Linked DNA regions of Homo sapiens: region 1 is linked to region 2. Evidence: fine-mapped expression QTL. A gene starts in region 2. The other region holds a variant in brackets. All regions are shown on one strand. Distances are from middle to middle. Region 1 overlaps CD2AP (CD2 associated protein). Region 2 holds the start of CD2AP (CD2 associated protein).

Region 1 (15,060 bases), 160 kb before region 2:
GAATCCAGGAGTTGGTTTTTTGAAAAGATCAACAAAATCGATAGACTGCTAGCAAGACTAATAAAGAAGAAAAGAGAGAAGAATCAAATAGACACAATAAAAAATGATAAAGGGGATATCACCACCGATCCCACAGAAATACAAACTACCATCAGAGAATACTATAAACACCTCTATGCAAATAAACTAGAAATTCGAGAAGAAATGGATGAATTCCTGGACACATACACCCTCCCAAGACTAAACCAGGAAGAAGCTGAATCCCTGAATAGATCAATAACAGGCTCTGAAATTGAGGCAATAATTAATAGCCTACCAACCAAAAAAAGTCAAGGACCAGACAGATTCACATCCGAATTCTACTAGAGGTACAAAGAGGAGCTGGCACCATTCCTTCTGAAACTATTCCAATCAATACAAAAAGAGAGAATCCTCCCTAACTCATTTTATGAGGCCAGCAGTATCCTGATACCAAAACCTGGCAGACACAACAAAAAAAGAGAATTTTAGACCAATATCCCTGATGAACATCGATGCAAAAATCCTCAATAAAATACTGGCAAACCAAATCCTGCAGCACATAAAAAAGTTTATCCACCATGATCAAGTGGGCTTCATCCCTGGGATGCAAGGCTGGTTCAACACACACAAATCAATAAATGTAATCCAGAGTATAAACAGAACCAAAGACACAAACCACATGATTATCTCAATAGATGCAGAAAAGACCTTTGACAAATTCAACTGCCCTTCATGCTAAAAACTCTAAATAAATTAGGTATTGATGGGACATATCTCAAAATAATAAGAGCTATTTATGACAAACCCACAGCCAATATCATGCTGAATGGGCAAAAACTGGAAGCATTCCCTTTGAAAACTGGTACGAGACAAGGATGCCCTCTCTCACCACTCCTATTCAACATAGTGTTGGAAGTTCTGGCCAGGGCAATCAGGCAGAAGAAAGAAATAAAGGGTATTCAATTAGGAAAGGAGGAAGTCAAATTGTCCTTGTTTGCAGATGACATGATTTTATATTTAGAAAACCCCATCATCTCAGCCCAAAATCTCCTTAAGCTGATAAGCAACTTCAGCAAAATCTCAGGATACAAAATCAATGTGTAAAAATCACAAGCATTCCTATACACCAATAACAGACAGAGAGCCAAATCATGAGTGAACTCCCATTCACAATTGCTTCAAAGAGAATAAAATACCTAGGAATCCAACTTACAATGGACATGTAGGACCTCTTCAAGGATAACTACAAACCACTGCTCAATGAAATAAAAGAGGACACAAACAAGGAAGAACATTCCATGCTCATGGATAGGAAGAATCAATATCATGAAAATGGCCATACTGCCCAAGGTAATTTATTGATTCGATGCCATCCCCATCAAGCTACCAAGGACTTTCTGCACAGAATTGGAAAAAACTACTTTAAAGTTCATATGGAACTAAAAAAGAGCCCACTTTGCCAAGACAATCCTAAGCAAAAAGAACAAAGCTGGAGGCATCACACTACCTGCCTTCAAACTATACTACAAGGCTACAGTAACCAAAACAGCATGGTACTGGTATCAAAACAGATACATAGACCAATGGAACAGAACAGAGCCCTCAGAAACAATACCACACATCTACAACCATCTGATCTTCGACAAACCTGACAAAAACAAGAAATGGGGAAAGGATTCCCTATTTAATAAATGGTGCTGGGAAAACTGGCTGGCCATATATAGAAAGCTGAAACTGGATCCTTTCCTTACACCTTATGCAAAAATTAATTAAAGATGGATTAAAGACTTAAATGTCAGACCTAAAACCATAAAAACCCTAGAAGAAAACCTAGGCAATACCATTCAGGACATAGGCATGGGCAAGGACTTCTTGTCTAAAACAGCAAAAGCAATGGCAACAAAAGCCAAAATTGACAAATGGGATCTAATTAAACTAAAGAGCTTCTGCACAGCAAAAGAAACTACCATCAGAGTGAACAGGCAACCTACAGAATGGGAGAAAATTTTTACAATCTACCTGTCTGACAAAGGGCTAATATCCAGAATCTACAAAGAACTTAAACAAATTTACAAGAAAAAAACAAACAACCCCATCAAAAAGTGGGCAAAGGATATGAACAGACACTTCTCAGAAGACACTTATGCAGCCAACAGACACATGAAAAAACGCTCATCATCACTGGCCATCAGAGAAATGCAAATCAAAACCACAATGAGATACCATCTCACACCAGTTAGAATGGAGATCATTAAAAAGTCAGGAAACAATGGGTGCTGAAGAGGATGTGGAGAAATCGGAACACTTTTGCACTGTTGGTGGGATTGTAAACTAGTTCAACCATTGTGGAAGACTGTGGCGATTCCTCAAAGATCTAGAACTAGAAATACCATTTGACCCAGCCATCCCATTACTGGGTATATATACAAAGGATTATAAATCATGCTGCTATAAAGACACATGCACACTTATGTTTATTGTGGCACTATTCACAATAGCAAAGACTTGGAACCAAGCCAAATGTCCATCAATGATAGACTGGATTAAGAAAATGTGGCACATATACACCATGGAATACTATGCAGCCATAAAAAGGATGAGTTCATGTCCTTTGTAGGGACATGGATGAAGCTGGAAACCATCATTCTGAGCAAACTATCACAAGGACAGAAAACCAAACACTGTATGTTGTCACTCATAGGTGGGAATTGAACAATGAGAACACTTGGACACAGGGTAGGGAACACCACACACCGGGCCTGTCATAGGGTCGGGGGAGGGGATAGCATTAGGAGATATACCTAATGTAAATGATGAGTTAATGGGTGCAGCACACCAACATGGCACATGTATACATATGTAAAAAACCTGCACGTTGTGTACATGTACCGTAGAACTTAAAGTATAATAAAAAAATAAAATAAAATAAAAAAAGAAATCCAAGCCAGGTCAAAACCAAAACCCAAGTATCAAGCAATCCAAGTCAAGTCAAAAACAAAAACCAAAGCGCAGGTACAGGCTGCCATGGGTGATCAGGCCACGCTTCCACTCAAATGGAGTGGGCGAGTTCCGAAGACCAGTCTTACCAAGTTTCAGATGTCCAGACTCCTAGTGCCAGTTCCTTCCCGGTGTTCAGCCACTGCGTTGATCCTCCACGGGGGCCTGCCAGGCACTGCTCTGGTGAGCTGTTCCACTAGGGCAATTGCCTACCCGCGAGCGCTCTCAGGATTCGTGTTGCTCAAGCTGGCTGGAGTCCCCCACAGGGATGTTCCACAGGGCAGACCTAAGCCTCCTAAGGGGCTGCCTCGAAGTCTGTTAATCACCTCGCTTCCCGGTCAGGGAACCAAGAAATGTAGCAGGACAAGCCACAGACAAAACCCCTCAGACACCAAGTTAAAGAAGGAAGGGCTTTATTAGGCCAGGAGCTTCGGCAAGACTCACGTCTCTAAAAACGGAGCTGCCCGAGTGAGCAATTCCTGTCCCTTTTAAGGGCTTACAACTCTAAGGGGGTTTGCGTGAGAGGGTCGTGATTGATTGAGCAAACAGGGGGTACGTGACTGGGGGCTGCATGCACTGGTAATCAGAATGGAACAGAACAGGACAGGGATTTTCACAGTGCTTTTCCATACAATGTCTGGAATCTATAGACAACATAACCAGTTAGGTCAGGGGTCAATCTTTAACCAGGCCCAGGGTGCGGCGCTGGGCTCTCTGCCTGTGGATTTCATTTCTGTCTTTTAGTTTTTACTTCTTCTTTCTTTGGAGGCAGAAATTGGGCATAAGACAATATGAGGGGTAGTCTTCTCCCTTAATAAGCTATTTTGTTTTATTCAGAATTTTATCTTCCAAGAGCAAATATTTCCTGGAGAGCAAGTACCTAATCTATTTTTGTTTGCTTTTGGTATTTCACTTGGGACAGGAAAGAATGTCCAGTACCAGTATTGTTTATCACAAGGACAGGAAAGTATGTTGGTTTGAATTCTCAGCCATCAGGAAAACTTACTTCTAAAGTTCTAAAATTCACCCTCAAATTTTTAATTTATATTTTCTCTTCTTTGTCCACCACCCAGTTTTCCTCAGCTTTGTTGTTTAAGTAGTCGATAACCTCATTTCTTATCTTAGTCACTAAATAGGCTTCAGGCTCAGATTTGATCAGCAGGGGATCTTATTATCTTCCTCTTTCCAGTGTCATTATCTACCATGAAATTAGTTGTCTAGCTAATTTTAAGAGTCTAGTTGTTGGAATGGTGAATTATTCCCAGGGTAAAGTGTTTCCTTTTCACTGTATTCATCAATGCCCCTCAAAACTCCCTGGGCAAGTCACTATTTATTCTGGGGATGATTTTTTAAAACACCCCCCACCTAAAAAGTACTTTCACTCACTGGTAAGCTGAATCCTTTGTCTGAAGCCTTCCTTTACTGCCATAAAGAAGGGAAGGGTGAATACCACAGCATAGGGAAAAGAAGGCTAGAATATAGGAACATTTCAATCTGACAGGAAGCAGAGAGCCTGTGGCTGGCAGAATAATCCCCACCACCACCACTGCCACCTAGATATATACACACATTCTAGTCCCAGGAATCTGTGAATACATTACCTTACACGGCAAAAGGGATTTTGCTAATGTGATTAAGAGCCTTCAGACAGGTGGGCCAAATGTAATCACAAGGGTTTTTAAGAGTGGAGAGGGAGACAGAATCAGGGAGAGGTGATTATGCATGAAGGATGGAGGACTGCAGTTTAAGAAGGGCTCAACCCTCTACAGGTGGCTTTGAAAATGGGGAAAGGGGGCCATGAGCTAAGAATTGCCAGCAGCCTAAAGAAGCTGGAAAAGGCAAGGAAAGGAATTTTCCCCCTAGAGCTTCCTTTGGAAGCCTTAATTTTAGCCCAGTGAGATTCATGTCAGACTTCTGACCTCCAGCATATAAAATAATACATGTCTATTGTTTTTGCACCACTAAATTTGTGTGATAATTACAGCGGCAATAGAAAGCTAATCCAGAGCCCTTCTGGTTCTGAACAAGAGAAGTTCCGACACAGAGAGCAAGAGCAAGGGCCAGGCAAGAGGTGAGATGTCTTCTCACATCAATACTCAACTAGGGAGGAAAGGGGCAGAGGAGAGCAAGAGGCTCAGAAACACGGAGTCTTGTCTCCTCCTGCTCCCTAGAGGATGTATCCACTTCTTGCACACACAGACACCACACTAAGAACAAAGGCAGATCCCTGAGTGAGGAGAAACAGCCCAAGGGAATTTTATGTTGATTGCTACTTATTTTGTATATGCAGTGATTTATAATTTAAACCAGATGACAGCTGGGCATGGTGGCTCATGCCTGTAATCCCAGCACTTTGGGAAGCCAATGCGGGCAGACCACTTGAGGTCAGGAGTTTTTGAGACCAGTCTGGCCAACATTGCAAAACCATGTCTCTACTAAAAATACAAAAATTAGCAGGGCATGGTGGCACATGCCTATAGTCTAGCTACTTGGGAGGCTGAGGCACAAGAAACACTTGAGCCGGGAGGCAGACGTAGTGAGCTGAGATCATGCCACTGCACTCCAGCCTGGGCAACAGAGTGAGACTCCATCTCATACACGTACAAAAAAAATAATCAATTAATTAATAAGCCAGATGAGAATGTAGCCTTTGAATGGCAATTTTTTTCTTGCCTCAGTAAGAACACAGGTTCAGATCAAGATAAACAAACATAAAGGCATTTTTGCATTACACATACATTCACAAATTCAATAGACTAAAACGAATATACATTATTTTATTTCATTCTCTACTTCTCCCTCTCTCTCCATGGAACTGGTGATAATCTTGGTGAGACTAAGGAAACGGTCCCTGAATACTTTTATGTATACTATGTTGTTTTTCTCATACTCCAGGATTTTTATCACTATTAAGAATCATAATCACTAGTTTTGTCACTTGTTCAAAATACTGTCTAAGCCCTGGGTCAAGACTTACTGATATCCATGAAAGGTTTTGCTTTTCCCTAAAGCATACTGCAGATGGCTGGCTATTTTGTCAGTGGAAAGATCTGTGTGATGTTGTCTTGCTCTGTCCTCCTATATAGCATGTTTCACTTCTGAAGTCTTTCAGGTGACCACGTTCCTTCTGGGGTAGGACTATTCTCTGCTTCTGTGACCCTACAGTCACATCATCACCACAATATGGACATTTTAACCCCATTTTGGAGAGAAAAGTCATTTCCTGCTTAGAATTTGGGCAGAAAATGGATTCACTTTTTCAGGCATGGTCGTGGCACCATAGACTCTCTCCACTGACCACTGGCTCTGGACTGTACTGGCAGACTCCAACTCTATATGAATTATACTAGACTTCACATAGGAAAAAGACAGAAGTGGCAAAACCAGAGATGCCCTACCAGAAACTCCTTAAGAAGCCTGGAGCACAAAGCTCACTACAAAACTATTATATGAGCTGGTTACATAAGCAACCATAAATGGGATTTGCTTTCTCTTTGGCCTGGTTGTGGTAGGAGCACATTGCAGGACAAAATGGAGGAACGGGAGGTGCCACCAGAGAATCAAGGACAGGAAGTGGCAAATAACACATGTGAGAAAAGGTTCAGGACTCACTGCAGCAACCTGGGGTCAAAGGAGCCCTCAAGGCGTCAACATCCAACAGAAATGACAAACAAGAGCAAGATGGTTTTGTTGCTGCTGTCTGACTTGTTCTCCCAGAACTCAGGGCCTCCTTTCTCCCTCTTCCCTGAGTAAACGGCAAGAAGGAAAGGGTTTAAATTCTGGCAAAACAAAGTTTTTATGTCTCTTTAGATAAGGAAAGGGATAAGACTTGAGTGATTTGCCAAGTTCACACAGCTACTCATTTTTAGAGCCAGTTTTCAGAGCGAGATCAGTTCGATTCCAAGGCCCCAACTCTTTTTACCCTATCATGTGGCACTTAGCTTGGGGAAGTAATCAGGCTAGGGAAGTAGGGTTGGTTGTGTCCCAGTTCTGGGTGAAGGTTGGAGCCCTCTCTGATTTTATTTGCAGCTGCTACCTGTTTATGGTTTCAAGACACATATAAGCTGAGCTTTATTTGACTGCCATCTAGTGGTCATTTAATTTTGTTTTTTTCCTTTTTTCTTTTTTTTTGAAAGACAGGGCCTCATTTTCTTGCCCAGGCTGGAGTGCAGTGGCGCGATCTGCAGCCTCAACCTCCTGGGCTCAAGCGATCCTCCCGCCTCAGCCTCCCAAGTAGCTGAGACTATAGATGCACACCAACACACCCAGTTAGTTTTTGTTTTTGTTTTGTTTTTAGTAGAAACAAGGTCTCCTTATATTGCCCAGACTGGGCTCTAAGCTCAAGCAATCCTCCCACCTCAGCCTCCCAAAGTACTGAGATTTCAGGCATGAGCCACCGTGCCTGGCCCATTTAATTTCTTTATGGAAGCTACGTAAGGTTGTTTATTGTGTTTTTGCTGAAAAGCCATGAAAACCATTTAAGTTTGCAAAGATGTACACTAAGAAATGAAGAACGTTTCCCAAAATCTTGTGTGACCACATCACAGAGAAATCTAAAAACTATGAGATCCCTGAAAATAGACTTTACATTTAGTCTCTTACTGGTGGAAAAATGTTGACAGACTTAATATAAAGGATCACAAAGAGTGAAAGAAGTAAGACTAGACTAGAAGAAATTAATATTCCCCAGGCAGGCTCCTTCTTTCCTATATATTATCTATGTAGAGAGGCAATAAAGCTTATGAGCAAAAGCACAGGCTTCAAAACTCGGTTTCTTGGGCTGAGTTCAGCTCCAGGCCTTATTAGCTCAGTGGCCTTGGCCAAGTTGCTTAACCTTCCTTAGCCTCTTTCCCGTGTGTGGAGTATAATACCTCCTAGCACGCAGGATTGTTGAGATGATTAGATAGGATAGACAGGTAAATTAGATAGCAATTACTTGGAATAGCACTTGGTATGTGGTAAGCACAATATAAACATTAGCTATGTTTGACGCGATGCCTACTTTTAAAGGTAAGTTTACTATAAAATGTAGGGTAAACTGACCATCTAAAGTCCAGTATATAAAATTTGTTAAATACATTTTAAGAGCCTAATGCAGTCCCTGGAAGAATGTCTGTTTTATAGCAATCGGCATGATAGTGGTTAGTCTTGAGGAGATATTATACTTGAATATTTGAGGAAGGAAGAAAAGGTAGGAGACGGTAAAGACAAGGGGTAGAGAGAATACCTCCCCTTTTGTCACTTATTCATCCACTAAACATTTACTGATTGTCTACTACATGCTAAAGACCATACTAGGTCATTTTAGGTCAGTGGTTCTCAAAGTGTGGTCCACAAGGTCAAAACAACTTTCATGATAATACGAAGATGCTAGTTGCTTTTCTCATTGTGTTGAGATTTGCACTGCTAGTGTAAACGCAGTGGTGACGGTGACTAGAACTGCTAGGCACGCATCAAGACAGTGGTACCATTTTGTTACTGTGTTCTTCACCACCATACCCAGTACAGGAAACCCCTTCCTTTTATCAAAGTGAACATTTTATTTTTCTCTTATAATTTCATATCATGCATTGAGATTGATAAATTTCCTGATATGAAATCTCTCCCTGTGAGATTTGGTTTATGATGATCAGGTTTAAAGTTATGCTGGATTCATAAAATAAATTGGGTGGCTTTCCATCTTTTTCTACAGTTTGAGTAGCTTAAAGACCAATTAAAACACAGCCATCATCTGGCCTTGCTGTCTTTCTCAGTTGTAGAGCCTTAAATACGTTTCAAATTCACTTACGGTGTGTTTAGTCAATTAAAAATTTCAACTTCTTCTTTGAGTCAGTATTCATTCTTTAAAGTTCCATAACTTAACAGATGTCTTGGTGTTACATATCATGCCATTTTTTTCCTCCTGGGACATAAAGGATTTTAATCAAGGTTTTCTTCTGGACAACTTTTTTTTTGTTATATAAAACACAGGTATCCATAAAGATACTTGTGTCTGATTACTCACGTTTCCATGGTGTCAGTTATTTGATGAATAGCACAGCAAGGAAGAAGAGCTATAAATTGTTAGCCAAAATATTCTCTCATTACATCTGTCTTCCCTAAGAGCATGTCTCCTTCTCCTTGGTTTTCAGACTTCCAATTATTAGGGCTTACAGTTAGTGAGGCTTCTCTTTCAGCTCCACATTCCCCAGCTATCCTTCTGTACAGGATTTGAGCCTACAATGATCAGATGAGCCTTTCAGAGAAATCTGCATCTGGCACAAAGTCTGGGAAAGTTTATATCAGATTTCAGGTTGCTCCCTCCAAAACATTTGGAAGGTATTTTTACTATTATAAATTGTAGCTTCCTTATTTCATCTGAAAAGCAATGTTTTTATCTTAAATCTGCTTTTTAATCTATTAATATCAAATCTTTTTCATTGTACTTACTGTTTTTAATGAGTCTCAAGGGAGGAAAAGACAGTAAAAATGTCATCACTCCGTCACATCGTTTACATTCTGTTCAGTTAATGTTTAGGAATATCTCTAAAAATCCACTCTACCATGAAAAGTTAACATGTGATTTTATTAAAGAATTGTTACTCATTGGGCATGGTGGCTAATGCCTGTAATCCAAGCACTCTGGGAGGCCGAGGGGAGCAGCGCGGATTGCTTTAACTCAGGAGTTCAAGACCAGCCCAGGCAACATGGTGAAACCCAGTATCAAAAACAAAACAAACAAAAAAAAATTAGGTGGGTGTGGTGGCATGCACCTGTAGTCCCAACTACTCAAGAGGCTGATGCAGGAGGATTGCTGGAGCCCAGGAGGCAGAGGTTGTAGTTAGCTGAGGTCGCACCACGGCACTCTAGCCAGGGTAATAGAGAAGGACCCTGACTGGAATAAAAAAAAAAAAAAGTTTCTCAATGCACTTAAAATGTAGTTTTACTTTCAATAACTTTATTCACACACTTTTAAAGGGAACTGAAATGTAGTCAGTAAGAAACACTTGGAACCTGATAGGAAATAATACCATCCAATAGTTGCAAAATAGCCACACCTTTCATGACAGAAAAAAACTATTGACTCTATACAAAAAATACTGATATCTATTTGTGAATTTATTTTCCTTACATGGAAGAGCAGATTCACAAAAATGGTGTCAGTGGTAAAATAAATGCAACAGGATTCAGAAAAAAAAATTTTAACACCCAGACCCAGTCTCTCTTGCATCTTGAGAATACAGCCTAATAAATCCAGGTGAGTTAAACTGCTACCTGCTTTTATTTCCTAGAACTGGGCTAAATTTGCAAATTGTATTTTCAGACAAAACCATCTGCACTCTTCAAACACAAATTCTATAGTCCAAAACTTTTACCATTATATGCCTCCAAAGTTTTTTGTCTAGTGCTTCTAAAAGCCAGTAAGAACTAGAAATTTTTTAAATAAGATTTTAAAAATCTTATGACACACTAATTTTCCACATTGCTTTATAGTGGTGTCCTATTCCTTCTGTTTCAAATCTTCCAGCACACTACTAGAATCTCTAAAGCTATATGTGATCTATGTTCAGCAAAAGTATGTGGACCTTAATGTTCTCCTGATTTCATCTTGTTTTCTGTTATTTATCAGGACTTTTTCGGTTGTGAGTTCAGAAACCCAACAAGCTTATGAGCAAGTCTGTGCTTATAGAACCAAGCAATAGACAGCTGAGACTCAGCAACAGCTACAATCAGTTTCAAAGTCCTTCCAGATTCTGTTTCCATCTATCTATGCTCTACTAAATTTTGTTTTTCAAATCAGCTTTTTCCAGATGACAGAAAAACAGAACTGTGGAGAGCTCCCATGCTGAGATTAGCTCTTTTTGTTTCCAATTTTAAAAATTTCATTCTTTGATTAACTCAGTAACTCAGTTTGAGCCAAGTACTCTCTCAAGGGATTTCCTGGGTGGGGTGATCAAGGAGGTAGAATCTGTAAGATGGTAGCAGCTCCCCTTTGAACAATATAATACAAATGAAAGGAGCATCTCCCCAAAGAAAAGGATACTATACCGTATTCAGGGGGAAAGGATACACAATGCCTCCTTTTTCTTAACCTTATCCATCTAATTTTTATCATATCCATCACTGTAAAATGCTTTTTAAAAAGGTAAAACAGCAGCCTCCATTTTTTTTT[T/A]AAAAAAAACCTACTCTATGCCAAGCACTCTACAAAGCCATTTAGATAAACTATTTCAAATTCTCCCCATAATCCTGTAAAGTAGAAATTACTGTCTCAGTTTCAGATGAAAAACCAGACTCAGAAAAGTTCAGTAAAAGTCATACGGGTCTAGAATTTTTAATGTTTTTGGTTTACTATTTATTCTTGTATTTGGAAATTGAAGTAATATAATTTTCATCATACTCTGAAATACACAAATGCTAAAGTTAACAAAAAATAACCAATAAAGACTGACACGACTGGCAATAAAATCCTTTAATTTTTCTTTTTGAGAGAGAAGCATGCTTTTAAATACAGCACCTGTAAACAAGTTAGTGAAGTATATACTATTTTGAGATTCCCCCTCTCAATTTTTTTTTTGGAATGTTAGGTTACAACATCAACTGCATTACGTAACAGTTATTGAAAGCAAGTCAGGGTAAAATTTTATAGCCAAAAATATTCATAGCAGCAACTTTTAAAATATGATTTTATTAAATCAAGTCATTGCACTTGGTCATTTTATTGCTACAGCAAAACAAGGCCTTTACATTATAATACTTCTCATTTCTGATTTAACTGATTGTCTCATTCTGCTCATACATTTCAAGTTTAAATGCAAGCATAAAATGTTTATCAACAAATCTAGAGAGCACTTGGATTTTTAATTTTTCTGTGATCACAGTAAGGAGCATAAAAAAGAGTATCTTCTGTTACACAAGGCCTGTTCTCTCTTTACATCTTCAGACTTAAATTCTGTAGAAGGTAACAGCTTTGTATTAAGACAGAAGCTTAGTGGTCACAAACAAAAAATAACACTGAAATACAATTCAGAAATTAATGATACTGTGTGTCTCAAAGAATACCTGAACTATACATTCACTAATAATTTGGCAATGAGATTCCATGCTGTTCAACTTTTGTCTTTTATACTCACACGTAGAAAAAAAATTCATGATTTACCCCAAGGTTATTATTAAATATCATTTTGTGATATGAACTTTAGTAATAGAAATTAATAACATTTCCCATACCAACAGAAAGTAAGTTGCTAGAATAAAGGAATCATTTTTCCCATCAGGCCTGGGTTTGTTTGGTTTTCTTTACTATTTTATCAAGGACAGAAAGGTAAAAGTATTTCAGTTACTTTTCTATTCTGACTGAGGAGGACACAAGCAAAAACTTTAAATACATTTCCATGCTCATAAGCATCTTGATTTCATGTACTATTGAGAAAATGACCAACAAAAACTTTAAGAACAGCCTGAAATCTGCTGGAAACTTCCCTCATCCCATTATTAGGATGACCAGGGATCACTTCAATAGATTTTCAGGTGAGAAAGCTGGAGGATAATTTCTAGGATTACAATATTTTTGTTTTACCTAAGGTTGGTCATTAAAAGAAAGTAAGATTTAATTTATTTAACAAGAAGAAAATAATTCATTTGACTAGTCATTTAAACCTATTCTATTTAACAGAAGAGGGAACAATTTTGTTCAGTAGTGACCTCATTAGAAGAGCCCATTTTGAAGAGTTCTAATGTATATTCTCAATATATAATTAGCATTCCCCCAAACCCCTAATGTAAGTTGTAAATTAAACATTATGTTGTTTACTGGCATTTCTATTTTCTACTTCAGTTCTCTTTATTTGAAACATGACAAAATTTCATTTACATAAGATTTCTATATTATAAGATTAAAATTTAAAGGAAAAATATTGGTTTGGTGGTTTAAAACTAAAAAAAATGGAAGCATGATCATTGGTACTCAAAAATCTGACACTCATTTGCGATATAATAAAGCATAAAACAATTTTTTGCAAATAAAAAATTTCAAATTTTAAAAATTTAAATAAACCCACTTGTGTTTTAGATGTTACCTACAGACAGAACATTTTAAAGCATTCAACTGTTCATAAGTAACTCTGAAGAAACAACTAATTCATCCATTCTGTGAAAATGTATTTTAAATATGTTCAACTATATTTGGTTTTAAATAAGCTGTAATGTTATATTTTATGACATACTAACATTCTTTATAAAGTTTGTACCTAAATAATAGTTCAAAATATCTCCATGAGTTAGTTTGGTCTATTAGGTAAATTATACATCGTAAAACCTGAGTATTTACAAGTTAACTTGTCAAAATAGGAAACCTCACACTGAAGTTCTGAAAAGCTTTGGGTTTTGTTTTCCTATTACCATTATTAAAAGTCAGAAGGAGAAACATGAAGAACTAAGTGACAAGATAATGAGAAATATTTGAGGCTGTAAAATAAGCAGAAAAGTACAGCAACAGGCTGGTGTTTACATATTTTATATGTGCTGTAGTTTCTAGGCACAAGTTAAGGGTTAAATTAACAGTTTTAGATTCTTCAGACCTAACAAATTTAAAATACAGTTCATATTTCCCCAAATGTTTAACAATCCAACATATTTTAACTAAGTTCCTTTTATGACTCCTATAGTGCAAGCAACATAAAATATTCTAAAAGTTGATGAAATTATTTTGATTATTCATTAGTTCTTACTATATGCATGGGTGAGTAATCTGGTTTATATAGCTAGGAAACTCCTATTTCATCACCCAAAATATAAACAGCATTGCAGACAAACAGGCACAACAGTGTAACCTTCGGTAAGAGGATAAAAGTAAAAATATATATATATATATACACACACACACACACACACACACACACACACACACACACACAGAGTTTATATCCCTTATGCATTATGGAAAAAGTAGTGACTATAGTTACTAAAAGGCTAATCTGTCCCTCTCAAATAGTATATCTTAACAGATTACTTGTAAATATATCACCATATTTATAGTATAGATCTCTTTAAAAATAATACAAGTTTCAATAAAAAAACTACTGTGCACATTCTTATTTATATTCAGTAGTATTTTCAAGCAAACAATTTTTTAAAAAGTGTTTGCAATCCCAGCACAGTTAAGAAATAAGGCCTCTTTTTCTTCATATTGGCAAAACAAAATATATATATAAATTCACCCTCACTCTACTTTTCTATAGATATTACACTTCATTTGCTCATATTTATCACAACAACAGAATTCACAATTTTTAAGTAACAAGTCAGCTGAAGTTCATAGCGTTGCTTCTGAATCCCTGGAACATTATGAACACCAGGTCCACACCACTCAAGAAGACAGGACAGCTTTTTTCAGCTTCTCTATTTCCATCTAAAACAAAAAACATAAATTGAGCAAACATAAAATATCCTTAGTTTAGTAGTTTATTTTACTCTATGTCATTAAGATGTGATCATACTTTCAAGCCTTCAGACTTTTTTTCCAGACCTAAAATCCAGTTTCCCATGCTATAATTTGGTTGAATAAAGTTTCAACAGTACAATGCAAGTTCCTAAATGGCAGTTACAATAAGAAAAAAGCAATTATAGCCCTTTCAGCCAGAACAAATGTTAAGTCATGTGAGCATTTAAAATTAAAGCTGTAAAAAAATCAGTCAGTCCTACAAAGAACAAAAGAATCCTTGAAACCAAATTAAGAAATGTACATGTATCTATAATTAAACAAAGGATACATAAACAACAGTAAAAAGAATAGAGACCTGTTTAGTTCCATGTTTTTCACTAATTATACTTAATTATAATTATAATTATTGTTAAATCACTTGACTTGGTTTCAATTTACTTATCTGTAACCAGTATATACTACATTAAATATCTTAAAGCCCAGGAATATATCTAAGATTCAGTCAAGGTGCTTGATATAGTTCCACCTTTAGGCAGAAGGAAATTCATAACTTAAGGAATTTATGAAGAAGGAGATCATTTCATTAAGTTTGCACAATAACTACACAGAGTTATTCAATACTG
Region 2 (15,632 bases):
CTTCCCAAATTCTTTCACACAGAATACCTCAAACTTCTCAATAGGCATTTTATCACATTTAACAAATGTAGACACTAAAAACATAAACTTCAAATAAGTCTACTAGTAGTCATCCCACTTAAGAGTTTTTCCTAAGCAACTAAAGCTCTTACCAATAATGGACTTTCGCACAGTACATCCAACATTGAAAAAAGTATCTATGTGGTTTCTGTAAGGTTATATCACATAAAATTCAATTTCTGCCTTAGTGCAAAATCATCTCATCCCTCTGGTCCTTTATTTAAAGAAAATATCCTACTTCTAACAAAGGTCAAAAATTGAGATTTTTTTTTTCCCAAGTTGGTACAAGAATTAGGGAAATCATTTGAAAATGAAAATCACCACCGCCAGCACTGGCAGTGTTCTAAGCACTTTACAAGTAGTAACTCATTCAATCCTCCTAACAACCTATGAGGTTGATATTTTATTCCATTTATAGATTGAGAAACTGAAGCACAGAGAAGTAATGTGCTCAGTCACACAGCCAGTAGGTAGAAGAGAATTTGACCTCAAGTAGTCTCTGTCCAGAGCCCATGCTTTTAACTCTCTAGCTGTACCACCTAAACTTAAGAACCACCATTTAATAGGCATCCAAATTATCTTACACACAAAAAAAATTTCAGATTTTTTCATTTTGTGACAAATTAGATAAAATATCATGTAAATATTTTAGGCTGCATCTAAAATCATAAGAAAAAAGGATGGCTGGTAAAACCAAATAAATGAGATTTATATTAAAGAGCAAACTCCCTTTAAGTGAACTTGGGAATTTTATTATTACATGACCAATAAACTTAAAGAATATATATATTGATATGGAAATGTTTCACAAACACTTTACAAAAACTTAACCACAAATGCCCTCAGTAACATACCTTCAAAACACATTCTAAGTAGTCGAGAGTATACCAACATTGATATCCAAGTCTATATGAAAACTCACCTAAACAGAACACAACAAATAAATCACAAAGAAAAAGCCTCTGGACAATCAAAATAGGTATTCCAATGTCCAAGTATTGGTACACATTTACTTTTCTCCAGAGACGACCTCACACACTAAGTAACGGCCTACTGATTTTTCCCCTATGCAGAATCACAAACCTGAATATGATTTCCACACTTCTAAAAAAAAATTAGAAAAGGAAAGATGATGGGGGACACTAATCAGTTACAAGCACATCCAAAAGCAAAGCAAAAAAAAAAAGTATTTAAATAATTTCAAAATGCGAACAAATATTATTTAGAATTTAGCTCAAAAGCCCTATATGCAAAACAAGACTGCATCCCCAGGTCATCCAAAGTAGTTTAATTTTATTCTGCATCCCATTTAAGACAGAAAAGAACTGTGTAATTAACTTTAGTATTATCTTAATCCAAAGCAGTTAAAGTGATTTTATAATTTCATACTTAAAAGAATATGCCCACAATTGCCCTGCAAGCTCAACTAATCAATTATAAAATAATTCATTTGAAAATTCCAAATAGCAAATGTTTTATTTCACTGTTTTTGAGCTCAAGAGCACTTTTGAGTATGAAAGTTACCTGAAAGGAGGGAGGTGGAGAAGGGAACATAAAATTAGAAAAGTCTAAGAAAACAGAGGATAGCTAGGCGAGTGTCTATAAACAATATGCTCAAAACATCCCCCACAAAGCAAAGTGTGGACAGAGGGTGCCACATCAGCAGTAGTCTGTATTCGTCCTGCTTCTAAATCATTTGTTAATTACATGAATTATTCATTTCGGTGATCGTTTGTTGATATGAAGCAGTACCAACTCTCAACTGCAAAAAGTGATAGGGTCCTCCTGATTTGCTCTACAAAAATCAAACTTGGGTTTACTCTTACAGAACACGTTCTGCCTTATAGAGACACAGGGTGTTTTGTTTTTTGTAAGCTATTCTTAAGTTGCTTTTAATTTTTAAAGGATTGAGGGAGTTAGTTTAATGCCTAGCCCACACCGAACTTTGTTATCAAAAGAAATTGTTACACCACTTAACAAAACTCCTTTTCAACCCGGACTGCCACACATTCTGCCTTCTCTAACTTCAAACAAAACTATAAAGCACATAGTAAATAACATATAAGGCCTTGTATTTTTCTCTCCTCCGGCAAGGAAGTCTAACTCCAAACAGGAAACTGCTCCTCAAAGGATCCAACACTGAAGTCCAAACCCAGTCCTCGGGAGCACACTGAATGCTTAGGTGCCAACACACTTGCCTAGGTAGAACCCGAGTAAAACAAATACTCAAGCTTTCCTGTCCTTGAGGCACCCCTTGCGAGTTTCAGCAGGAAAAAAAAAAAGTTTTTGAACAAATTTATCTCTCTCCTTAAACGTATTCAAAGCCTCGCAGAAAATAAAGAAGTTGAAAGTGCTACTTTATCAAGTTTTTCGATCGCCCTCCCCCATCCCACGAGGAGGGGGAGGGAAGCAAGGGGATGAGGAAGGGAAGGAAGGTCAGGTCTGATTTTAGCTGGGCAAGGGGTTAGCAGAGGTGGCCAGGCGCCCCCGCCCCCCATCCCGCACCTTTCTGGTGAACAGGAAAAGAGGCGGAGAAGGGAGAGCGAGGGAAAGCACCCGCGAGCTCTCCCACCAGTTTCTCCGTGAGAAGAGCAAGGTGGAAGGCAGGGCAAGAAGGGGCGGTGGGGAGAATGGAGAGGGTGGGGTGCTGCCGCTCAGGGGCTGACCGCAGTCGCCTCCCCAGAAGGCCGAGAAAGGGCACAGCCTCCCCGGGTCTGGAAGGTCCGGACGGGCGGCGGGAAGCGCCCGAGTCTCTTACCCATGCTGGGGGCTCCCGCGGGGAGAAGCCGACGTCCGCTCCTCCTCCTCCTCCTCCAGTGGTGGCTCGCGCGGCCGCTCCCGCGGCTGGAGGCGGGACCCGCGCTCCGCGCTAGCCCCTCCTGAGCTCAGGCGGGGCGAAGAGTCGCCTCCATCCGCCCGCGGCGCTCTCCTACCAGTCTCTTCAGCGCGGCCCTCGAGGCAGAGGCAAAGGCGGCGACAGCTCCTCACCCCTGGCCTCCCCAGGAGCCACGGCGGCGGGAGGGCCCTACCCCGCCCGCCCGACCGCGGTTTTCCCACCCTGGCCGCTCCCGCAGTGGGGAGGGACCCACCGGTTTGCCCAGACCCTCGGCTCCAACCCCGAGCGCCCGCCTAGCCTCGGAGCCCGCCCCTCGCCTCTTCCTTAGCACTCGCAGTTAGAAAAGGCGACACCGTAGACTAAGGTGGGGACCCAGACAGAGGCCGAGAAGGTGCGGGGAGCTGGGACCGGGAGGAGGCAAATCTCGCGAGAACGCCCTCGTTCTCCCCGCCCCACCCCGCCCCGTCGCGTTCGGGCTCTCTCCCGGTCCCCACGGCTGCTGCCAGGTGCGGTGACGTCACGGCCGGGGGTCGCGCGCCGACCGCGTCCAGGTGCAGCGAGCGGATGAGGAAGCGGTGCAGAGGAGCTTGGGCTCGCTCTCCCCCCGGAGGCTCGGAACAGCTTGGGCGGGCGTTTGGTCTGGTTTGTCGCCTCAGATGGATCAAAAGGTTTCTGCTGATAGGCAAAGTTGCCCCACTTTCCGCGGCGGCGACGCGGAGTTACTTTCTGCAGCGAAGCAGCCTCGAGGACCTTAAAGGGAAAAGGCGGACAGAAGGAGGGCGAGCGCACTTGATTTCGACCTTTAAGGGAGGCCCAGATGCTGCCAGGCCCCTCAGTTTACCTTGCGAAGTTACTTACGGATCAGCAGCATTTGGTCTTCGTCGGGTGAGGGAGAAACCTAGGCATCAAATAAATTCTGTTTCACAGATTCCTTTAGTCTCTTGTCAGCTGAATGCAACTTTATAATTTGCTTTTTTTCTTTTTAAAGTATAATTTGAGTTGTTACTTGATCGAGAGAAAAATAGGCATCATGATTTGAAATACTGCCAGGCATTTTTTCTAGCGTCAATGTGAAGGAGGGCATAGGATTACTATAGTCAGTCAAACATGAGCTTGGTAGTTACGAAGAAGTATAATTATTTCAGCAAGCTTTTTTTCCCCCTTCTGTTTAAGTAGACCCAATTCCAGGGCAGATGTGTGTGTGAGCGTTTGTTGAACGCCAACTATTGTGCCTAGTGCTTTTTCAAGAAATTTTGTAATTCTCAGTCATCCAGCACTGAAACTGACTTGCCCTTTGGATCCAGGCAGACATGGGTCCTTGAAACTCAGCACAGCCATTTACTTTTTGTGGGACCTTGGATAAATTAACCTGTCTGAACTTCAATTTCTTGAGTATGTTCAAACAAATCTTGCAATGCAGAGCACAGTGGCCCATAGTAGTAACCTTGGACGTATCCATTACCACTATTTCCTATAGGCCTGCTTTTGCCATCTTTTAATTCTTCTAATGCTTCTCAAAAGGTTACATGTGGTAATTTTATAACAAGAATGATCAAACTCACAAACAGCAGCCAAAAAGGATAAAAGAAAAAAGTTGAATATACTCACCTAAACAAGATTACATTGACATCATGGAACATGTGCCTTTTTTAGGTAACAAATATGTGTTCAGCATTATGTTCGTTGTCCCCTACCAAGCAAAAAAATAAAAAGCTAAAGTACAGCGCTAATCCTCAGAGATTTTGCATTCTTCTAGGGGGGTGAGATACGAACACAAAGTTAATTAACAGTATGAGGTAGTGAGGGTCAAATGCTTGAGAATTTAAAGGAAAATAAATTACTGTGGGCAAAGCAAGCTGTAAAGAGAAGGTATGAGTTGAACGAAAGCTTGGGGAAGGCAATAATTCAGTCTGGAGGAGTCCTAGAACTGAGGAATGGAAGTGGATATGCAAACAGAGTATTTCTGAGCCTTTAAGAAATGTGTGTGGCTCAAGCAGCCCATAAGGAAGGCCATTTACGATTTGGAAGAATGAGGCTGGTGATGGGCTAAGAAGGATTCATGAAAGGAGACAAAAATATAAGCTATTGGAAGCACATACATAGGTAGTAAATTCAAGGCCCAGAGCCCTTAAGTTTCTAGAGACTAAATTTCTAGGTCTCTAGAATCCTTAATATTTAAAGAAGAAAGGCCAATGAATAGAATGGAAAAGAAGTTAAGTAAAACAGAAGGGGGAATAAAGACTATCAGATTTGATAATAAGGGCATCTTTGAAAATATAATTTCAGAATATATATAATAGAATATATAATATATAACTACATATTCAGAATATATATATAATAGAAAATTCAGATTAAAGGTTTTATCAATTGAATGATAAGGAAGTGGAGGCCACAGATAAGGTAGATATTTTCTGAGAAGTCAGGTCACATGATCTGACAACAAGATAAAACATTTACAATCATTTATGTCCTAGAAATTCCAGGATCTTCACACTTGTAATCCCAGCAATTTGGGAGGCCAAGGGAGGAGGAGCACTTGAACCCAGGAGTTTGAGACCAGCCTGGGCAACATAGCAAGACTCCATCTCTACAAAAAAAAAAAAAAAAAAAATACAAAAATTAGCCCAGGTATGGTGGCACAGGCCTGCGGTCTCAACTACTTGGGAGGCGGAAGTGAGAGGATCACCTGAGTCCAGGGCCGTCGAGGCTGCAGTGAACTGTGATCCTGCCACTGCACTCCACCCAGCCTGGATGACAGAGTGAGACCCTGTCTCAAAAAAAAAAAAAAAAAAAATTCTAGCATCAGTTATTGCCATAATTAATGTACGTATTTTACAAGTTTAAAAGTTAAATTCACTTTGCAAATTCAGAGGCATTATCCATTGAGGTAATGATGAGATGACAAATCATAGAAATTGGAAGGATCAGGGAATAGAACCCCTAAGAATGGTTGAGAAAACTGAAGTAAATCTAAGAAGTAATCGCAATCCCAAATTTAATGTTGTTTTCCAAAGACAAAGCCAAAGGAAATTCTAACAGAAGAATGAAATCTAGCAATTTACTTTTAAACTTACAAAATGGTATGTAAAAATACCTTCTAAACTTTTGAATGCTATGCAAATATTAGTTATTAATTATTCCTTTAAGCTCTTTTCATCCTTTAAATCTTACCTTCTCAGCTATAAGAGGCCTTCAAGGTATGGCAGTATGTTTTATACGTTTTTATATGGCTACCACCGTCTGCAGCTCAAAACATTGCGTTCCCTGGCAATAATTATTAGTTGAATGAGAGAAAATATGGTGAGAAGATAATTTCTACTTACCACATATATTAAATTTAAATTCCTTTAATCTAAAAACAAATTATCTTTTACTTTTCCCTTTATTTTATTGTTACCTTTATACTGGATTAGGTTTGTTTCTGTCCATCTGTCCTTATTCTTCTTTGTATTCCAGTACAAATGGACTAACACCACTCTAATCATTCACTTTCTTTTTTTCTGCCAAGTACTAAACATGTTGATCTGATATCAAGGAGAGCACTACAGTTCTGTGTGAATGACACAATTTCAGACCAACGTAATTCATGCTAAACTGCCATGATTTCTTCCTGAAGTTTTCTTAGGAATTTATCTGAAGATATCTATATTTTAAAAAAGCATCTGCCTTCTTTCCTTTTGGTAAAAACTATTATAACCAAGAAGATTATGCTAAAGAAAAATAAGTGTTAACTAAATTATATTATTTTTAAAGCACTCATTTAGCTAAAATCTTGTGACTAATTATTTTTTCTTTATTCTCATTCAAAAGTACTAGGTTTCCTGGGAAGTTTTCTTACTGCTACCTTGTTTTGGCCTGGCTAATTTACTGTAAACTTAAGCCCAAATTACATCAATGTATAATCTGCATTTTAAAAATCATTCTTTAGAAAACAATTGTAGGAAATAATAACCTCAATCAGAATGCCTATACTGTGAGATCATTGAAGCTGAAAAATCCCCCTGCTCAAACTGGTGGCCCATTCAGCTTGCAACAAAATACTGTTCCTCGACTAGCAACTTGGGGGATGTCCTCAGGCCTATGACCACTCTAAGCACTTTTCATTATTGCATACTAAGAAAGAGTTAATTAAAAACATGATGACCCATCTAAATGAATCACCACTTGCCAACTGCAAGGACCTTTTTAATGGTGTTATTTGCACTTTATTCAGATGCTAGTGTCATAAAGCTGGCATTTGATAGGCAAGTCATAGGAGACTCATAGGCCTTTAAAGGGAATATCTTTCAAGAAGCATTACTCCTCCCAAATATTAAAGCTAGCTCCTTTTGAAGGGTCACATATTTTAAGTAATCTCAAATAACAAATACATTTGCATTTTCAAATATCAGGCAGTTAAATTATACACATGGTATTATGTAAATAATTTCCAGTCACAAGTACACATTTATTCAACTCAACAGATGTTTTTCTGATCACCCATTACAAATGAGCAGCTTCTGGATGATAAATATAGAGATAGAAATAAAGTCCTTGCCCTTAAAAGAGAAAGGATTGGGGAGTCTCTCGAGGGTACATTGGAATTCTCAGTAAGGACAAGGAAGGGTAGTCAGGTAGCCAGGACAATAGGCAGGTATACAATCCAAAGCCCAGGATGGGCGTGGTAGTTCACGCCTGTAATCCCAATACTTTGGGAGGCCAAGGCGGGCAGATCACCTGAGGTCAGGAGTTCAAGACCAGCCTGGTCAACATGGCGAAACCCTATCTCTACTAAAAATACAAAAATTAGCCAGGCATGGTGGTGGGTGCCTGTAATCCCAGCTACTTGGGAGGCTGAGGCAGGAGAATCACTTGAACCCGGGAAGCAGAGGTTGCAGTGAGCCAAGATCATGCCACTGCACTCCAGCCTGGGTGGCAGAGTAAGACTCCATCTCAAAAAAAAAAAAAAAAAAGGCTAGGATGTCTTTGAGGGGCCAGGCTCTGAGACCACACTCAAATATGGAGAGCACTGTGTGCCAGGGAAGTAATTTGACGTCTTGTTCTAGAAGTAAGAGGCAATTAATGAAGTATTTTAAGTAGGCAACTGATTTGCTTTTCCAGCTACATCCACGGTCATAAAAAAAATGCACACAAGTCACAAAAAATTAGGTACAAAAAAATTTGGTTAAATAAGCATTGATTAAGCACCCACTACCCTCAAATAATTAGTAAATATGTTTTTTTACTAATACAATAAATGTTTAAACTAATATAAGATACAAGGGATTTCATATGCTGGACACTGTGAAAGATTCATTGCAGCAAACACAAACTCTGCCTTCAAGGAATGTGATTTCCAGCTAAGAAGGCAAAGATATACCTAACTATTTCAACTTGCACTTATTTAAATAAAATGTACCTTATTGAGGAGAACCTGCATTTCGAATCAACATGGCACAGACAAATAAACTGGGGAAATTTTCAATTTAATAATTAATTTGTAGTATTCTTATTTGAATCTCTGCAAAATTTTATGCTATAGAAATTTTTAATTTTTGTGGGTACATAGTAGGTGTATAGATTTATGGGGTACATGAGATATTTTTATACAGCCATACAATGCATAATAATCACATCAGGGTAAATGGGATATCCATCACCTCAAGCATTTATCCATTCTTTGTGTTGCAAACAATTCAATTATATTATTTTAGCTATCTTAAGATGTGTAATAAATTATTGTTGACTGTGCTCTCCCTGTTATTCTATTTAATCATACTCATTCTATCTAACTATATTTTTGCACCCATTAACCATTCCCATTCTCCCCACCCCTGCCCAGCCTCTTCTAACCATCATTCTACACTCTGTGAGTTCAATTGTTTTAAATTTTTTACCTCCCACAAATAAGTGAGAACATGCAAAGTTTGTCTTTCTGTTCCTGGCTTAATTCACTTAACATATGACTTCCAGTTCCATTCATGTTTTTGCAGATGACAGGATTCCATTCTTTTCTATGAATGAATAGTACTCCATTGTGTATATGTACCACATTTTCTTTATCCATTCATCTGTTGATGGACACTTAGGTTGATTCCAAATATTGGCTATTGTGAGTAGTGCTGCAATAAACATGAGAGGACAGATATCTCTTTGATATAAGATTTCCTTTCTTTTGGGTATACGCTTAGCAGTAGAATTGCTGGATCATATTATGGTGGTTCTATTTTTAGTTTTATGAGGAACCTCCAAAACTGTTCTCCATAGTGGCTATACTAATTTACATTCCCACCAACAGTGTACAAAGGTTCTCTTTTCTCCACATTCTCACCAGCATTTGTTATTACTTGTCTTTTAGATAAAAGCCATTTTAACTGGGGAGAGATGATATCTCACTGTAGTTTTCATTTGTATTTCTCTGATGATCAATGATGTTGAGCATATTTTCATATACCTGTTTGCCATTTTTTTTTTTTTTTGAGACGGGGTTTTGCTCTTGTTGCCCAGGCTGGAGTGCAATGGCATAATCTTGGCTCACCACAACCTCCGCCTCCCAGGTTCAACCAATTTTCCTGCCTCAGCCTCCCAAGTAGCTGGGATTACAGGCATGCGCCACCATGCCCAGCTAATTTTTGTATTTTTAGTAGAAACAGGGTTTCTTCACATTGGTCAGGCTGGTCTCGAAATCCCAACCTCAGGTGATCCGCCTGCCTTGGCCTCCCAAAGTGCTGGGGTTGCAGGCGTGAGCCACTGCACCTGGCCTCCTGTTTGCCATTTTTATATCTCCTTTTGAGAAATGTCTATTCAGATCTTTTGCCCATTTTTAATCAAATTATTAAATTTCTCCTATAGAGTTATTTAAGCTCTTTATGTACTGTAGTTATTTATCCCTTGTCAGGCAGATAGTTTGCAAATATTTTCTCCCATTCTGTAGGTTGCCTCTTCACTTCGTTGATTGTTTCCTTTGCTGTGCAGACACTCTTTAACATGATGTAATCCCATTTGCCACTTTTGCTTTGGTTTCCTGTGCTTGTGAGGGTACTAATCAAGAAATCTTTGCCCAGTCCAATGTCCTAAAGAGTTTCCCCCAATATTTTCTTTTAGTAGTTTCATAGGTTCAGGTCTTAGAAATTTAAATCTTTACTCCATTTTGATTTGATTTTTGTGTATCACAACAGATGGGATCTAGTTTCATTCTTCTACATATGGGTATCCAGTTTTCCCAGCACCATTTATTGAAGAAACCATTCTTTCCCCAAAGTATGTTCTTGGCACCTTTGTTGAAAATGAGTTCACTGTAGATGTATGGATTAATTTCTATGTTCTCTATTCTGTTCCACTGGTCTATGTGTCTGTTTTTATGCCAGTACCCTGCTGTTTTGGTTAGCACAGCTCTGTAGTATAATTTGAAGTTGCATAACGTAATGCCTCCAGTTTCGTTCTTTTTTGCTCAGGATAGCTTTGGATATTCTGGGTCTTTTGTGGTTCCATATTAATTTTATGATTGTTTTCTCCATTTCTGTGAAGAATGTCATTGGTGTTTTGATAGGAACTGCATTAAATTTGTACATTACTTTGGGTGGTGTGGACATTTTAACAATATTGATTCTTCCAATCCATGAACATGGAATATCTTTCTATTTGTGTGTGTGTGTGTGTGTTTGTGTGTGTATGTGTGTGTCTTCTTCAGTTTCTTTCATCAGTATTTTATGGTTTTGATTGTAGAGAACTTCCACTTCTTTGGTTAATTCCCAAATATATTATTTTATATGTAGTTATTATAAATGGGATTACTTTCTTGATTTCTTTTTTAGATTGTTTGCTGTTGGCATATAGAAATGCTACTGATTTTTGTATGTTGATTTTGTATCCTGCAACTTTACTGAATTTGATTATCAGTTCTAATAGTTTTTTGGTGGCGTCTTTAGGTTTTTCCAAATATAAAATTATATCTTCTGCATGCAAAGATAATTTGACTTCTTCCTTTCCAATTCGGGTGCCCTTTATTCCCTTCTCTTGCCTGATTGCTGTAGATAGAACTTCCAGCACCATGTTGAACAACAGTTGTGAATGTGGACATCTTTTTCTTGTTCCAGATCTTACAGGAAAGGCCATTTTTTCCTCTCATCAGTTTTTCCCCATTCAGTATGATACTAGCTGTGAGTCTGTCATACATGGCTTTTATGGTGTTGAGGTATGTTCCTTCTATACCCAGTTTTTTGGGGGGTTTTTATCATAATGTTGAATTTTATCAAATGGTTTTTAGGCATCAGTTAAAATTATCATATAGTTTTTGTCCTTCATTCTGCTTATATGATGAATCACATTGATTTATTTACTTATGTTGAACCATCTTTGCATATCTGGGATAAATCCCACATGGTCATGATGAATGCTGTTTTTAATGTGCTGTTGGATTCTGTTTGCTAGTATTTTATTGAGGATTTTCACATGAATATTCATCAGAAATATTGACCTGTAGTTTTCTTTTCTTGATGTGTCCTTGTCTGGTTTTGGTATCAGGATAGTATTGGTTTTATAGAATAAGTTTGGAAGTATTCCCTCCTTCTCTATTTTTTGGAATAGTTTGAGAAGCATTGGTATTCGTTCTTCTTTAAATATTTGGTGAAATTCACCAGTGAGGACATTGGATCTTGGACTTTCTTGGCTGGGAGATTCTTTATTATGGCTTCAATCTTGTTACTTGTTATTGCCCTATTCAGGTTTTGAATTTCATAAGCTTCAATCTTAGTAGGTTGTAGGTGTCTAGAAATTTGCCCAAGTCTTCTAGGTTTTCCAATTTATTGGCATATAGTTGCCCATGGTAGCCCCTAATGATCCTTTGAATTTCTGCAGTAACAGTTGTAATGTATCCTTTTTCATCTCTGAATTTATTTATCAGGGTCTTGTCTCTTTTTTCTTAGTCTGGCTAAGAGTTTCTCAATTTATCTTTTTAGAAAACAACTTTTTTCATTTTTTTTAAATTTTAATTTCATTTATCTCCGCTCTGATCTTCATTGTTTCTTTTCTTCACTAATTTTGGGTTTGGTTTGCTCTTGCTTTTCTAGTTTATAAAAATGCATTGTTAGATCATTTATTTGATTTTTTCTACTTTTTTGATGTAGGCGCTTATTGGTAAAAATGTTCCTTTTAGTACTGCTTTTGCTGTATCCCATAGATTTTGATATGTCTTGTTTCCATTTTCATTTGTTTCAAGACAGTTTTTAATTTGCTTCTTAGAGTTTTTACTGACCCACTGGTTATTTAGGAGCATATTGTTTAATTTCCACGTGATTGTATAGTTTCCAAAGTTCCTTTTGTTATTGATTTCTAGTTTTGCTCCACTGTGGTCAGAAAAGATACTTGATATGATTTCAATTTTTTGAATTTTTTAAGACTTGTTTTGTGGCTTAACATATGGTCTGTTTTTGAGAATAAGCCATGTGCTAAAGAGAAGAATGTGTATTCTTCAGCTGTTGGATAAAATATTCTGTAACTATCTATTAGATTCATTTGGCCTATAGTCCAGATTAAGTTCAACGTTTCTTTGTTGATTTTCTGTCTGGATGATCTCACCAATGCTGAAAGTTGGGTGTTGAAATCTCCAGCTATTATTGTATTGGGGTCTATCTCTCTTTAGCTCTAATATTATTTGCTTTCTATATCTGCATGCTGCAGTGTTGAGTGCATATATATATACAATTGTTATATCCTCTTGCTGAATTCACCTTTTTTATCATTATATCATGACCATCTTTTTCTCTTTTTGTGGACTTTGTCTTGAAATCTATTTTGTCTAGTATAAGTATAGCTTTTCCTGCTCTTTTTTGGCTCCCTTGGGATGGAATATCTTTTTCCATCCCTTTATTTTCAGTCTATGTGTGTCTTTATACATGAATTATGTTTCTTGTAGATATAGTTCACTGGGTCTTGTTTTTTTATATCCATTTAGCCACTATCTATGTCTTTTGATTAGAGAGTTTAGTACATTTACATTCAATGTTATTATTGATAAGTAAGGACTTATTCCTGGCCCTAGCCATACATTATTTCCAAAATAATAAATGGAAATTTTATTTCATATCCCAGTCTAACTTCCTAAACTGCACAGATTACAATAAGGGCTATATCCCATCTGGTACTGGAGCTTTTATGCTACGTGTTCTGACATTATCTTGGTGCCCAAAATTAAATGCCTGCCAAAGCAAAAGAGTCTCATACACCGAGATGTTTCTCTCTGCTTATTCCTTATTCACATTTTGTTCTTAGGTTTCCAGGCCAGGTCTCAACACTCCCATAACTGCATCACATTCTCTTTTTTTTTTTTTTTTTTTAGAGAGACGGAGTCTCGCTCCTTCTCCCAGGCCGGACTGCAGTGGCGCTATCTCGGCTCACTGCAAGCTCCGCCTCCCGGGTTCATGCCATTCTCCTGCCTCAGCCTCCCGAGTAGCTGGGATTACAGGCGCCCGCCACCGCGCCCGGCTAATTTTTTGTATTTTTAGTAGAGACGGGGTTTCACCGTGTTAGCCAAGATGGTCTGGATCTCCTGACCTCGTGATCCGTGCGCCTCGGCCTCCCAAAGTGCTGGGATTACAGGGGTGAGCCACCGCGCCCGGCCACCTGCATCACATTCTATATGCGGTTCATAAGCAAGTCTCAACCTCCCTGTCTCCCCATACCTCCCCAGCCATCATCTGCCTTGTCTCACATTTATTTAAATATCAAGTAAATTAGAGTGCACTTCAACCTCCTTACCCCCGAGGCCTATACCAATACTTCCACTTCATAACCAGGGAACTGATGCATCCTAAATAGTCCCCTGCACACTCTGCCAACCTTCTTCTGTGTGGAATTGCTTCTTTGAAATGGTCCATGCCCTCTTTTTGCCCCTCAATAGTTATATCTCTGATTTGGACTTACAATGTTACACTTGGGCTACATTTTTCCCTTTCCATTTCCTAGGCTGTAATCTTCATCCTTTTTTCACTTTGTCCTTTCTTATCCTTTTTCTCTATCTTACACTATGTCTTTCCTTACTCTTTAACACCATCCTTAGATTATCAATCCAGTTTAACTGGTTTTGTAAACGCTACAAAGGTAACCTCTTTGATTACCTCCCTCACTGCCAAATATATTTTCACAGAATAATGTTGGGCCTTACTGAGACCATGGTAAGGTGACAAAGCTTTCTCACAGTACACAAATCTCAATGTACTCCTTAAGACAAATTAGTGAAGGAGGTAATACTATTTCTAGTTTGACAATGTTAGCAATGACAACAATGTCAATAACAGCTAACACCATCTGACCATTTTAAGTCTCAAGCATGGACCTAGACACTTCATACACCTCATCTGACATGACCTTCATTACAATGCTACGAGTGGTAGTATTATCACCCTATTTAAAGAGCAGGAAGCTGAGACTAGTTAATTAACTTGCCTAAGGTCACATAACCATTAAGAAGCAGAGCCTGTGAGAATTCAGGGCTAATTCCATAGCTGAGGCTCCAGCCTATCTTAGGTCAATTCACTCCTTGAGCTGTGATTTCTTCCTTTGTTTAAAAGGAAGGAGGAGGAGGAGGAGAGAGAGAAAGAGGTCAGTGGAGGAGCTGAAGGAATCCTTCTTCAGTGGTTTGTATACGGATCAAGTCATATGTTAAGTGAATTAAGCATCAAGTGTCTAGTCTGTGTCAGGCCAGAATCAGTGACCTGTGGCTTGTAATTCCATCTACTTGGGAGGCTGAGGTGGGAGGATTGCTTGAGCCCAGGAATTCAAAGCTGCAAGGAACTAGGATAGTGCCACAGCACTCCAGCCTGGGTGACAGAGCCTTGCTCAATATCTTTTAAAAAAAAAAAAAAAAAGTGGAATTACTAAATCAAAAGCCAAAAACATTTACATTTTGATTATATTTTGCCAAATTGCCTTCCAAAAATGTTTCACCAGTTACTGTTTTCAATAGTCTATACTGTCATCAAAACTGGATATTAACAATCTTTTGAGTTTAGCCCATAGGATACAAAAAAATTATAGCTCGTTGTTTCAATTTAGATTACGGAGGTTGAGAATCTTTACATATGTATACTATTTTCATATGTTTGCCTAAAAATTGCCAGCCTGCCAGCACATATCCTTGGCTCATTTGTCTTTTTTGTTATAATTTTCTCGGTGATTTCTAAGAACTCTTTATTCTAGGGATATTAGTTATTTTTCCAGGTACCCATCTGCTCTTAGATCCATTCCTGTCTTTCCCCTGGGTTTGTGTGGGACGAGAGTTGGGGTGTGGAGCACTGGCCCTTGCAGACTCCTTTCCCAGTCAGTTGGCTTCCAGTTGAATCTGGACAAAGAGAGGCACTGGTGAGAGACTGGAAGGTATGGAAGGCACAAGGAGAGCTCCCTCAAAGATGCCTACTTCCCAGTCCCTGAAACCTGTGAACACATCATATTACATAGCAAAGGAGAATTGAGTTACAGATGGAATTATGTTTGCAAATCAGCTGACCTTAAAATGAGATTACCCTAGGTTTTCCAGGTAGTACCGATGTAATCACAAGGGAACTTAAAAGGTGATAGCATGAGAAGGATTTGACTGGCCATTGCTGCCTTTGAAAATAGAGGAAAGAGGAGCTAGGAAAGGTAGCCTCAAGAAACTGGAAAAGCCAAGGAAAATAGATTCTTCCCTAAAGCCTTGGAAAGAAATGCAGTTCTGACATCTTGTTTTTATCCCAGTGAGAGGCATTTCAGATTTCTGATC

Evidence for each region.
Region 1: its variant is fine-mapped to the expression of CD2AP in lung (TOPMed, PIP 0.92).

What each region holds. Positions count from the first base shown.
Region 1 is chr6:47,623,530-47,638,589 of GRCh38, reverse strand. CD2AP (CD2 associated protein) reads right to left here. Exons shown (of 18, transcript NM_012120.3): 18 at 11,327-14,404. The coding sequence ends at 14,363. Among named protein-coding and RNA genes, the nearest start is that of ADGRF4, 68 kb to the left of the region's middle. The variant T/A (reference allele first, on the strand shown) is at 11,171.
Region 2 is chr6:47,465,435-47,481,066 of GRCh38, reverse strand. It overlaps CD2AP (CD2 associated protein), which reads right to left and starts at 3,278. Exons shown (of 18, transcript NM_012120.3): 1 at 2,819-3,278. The coding sequence starts at 2,822. CD2AP-DT (CD2AP divergent transcript) reads left to right here and starts at 2,995. Exons shown (of 1, transcript NR_187257.1): 1 at 2,995-3,824. RefSeq lists an enhancer at 1,994-2,720 and a silencer at 3,007-3,516.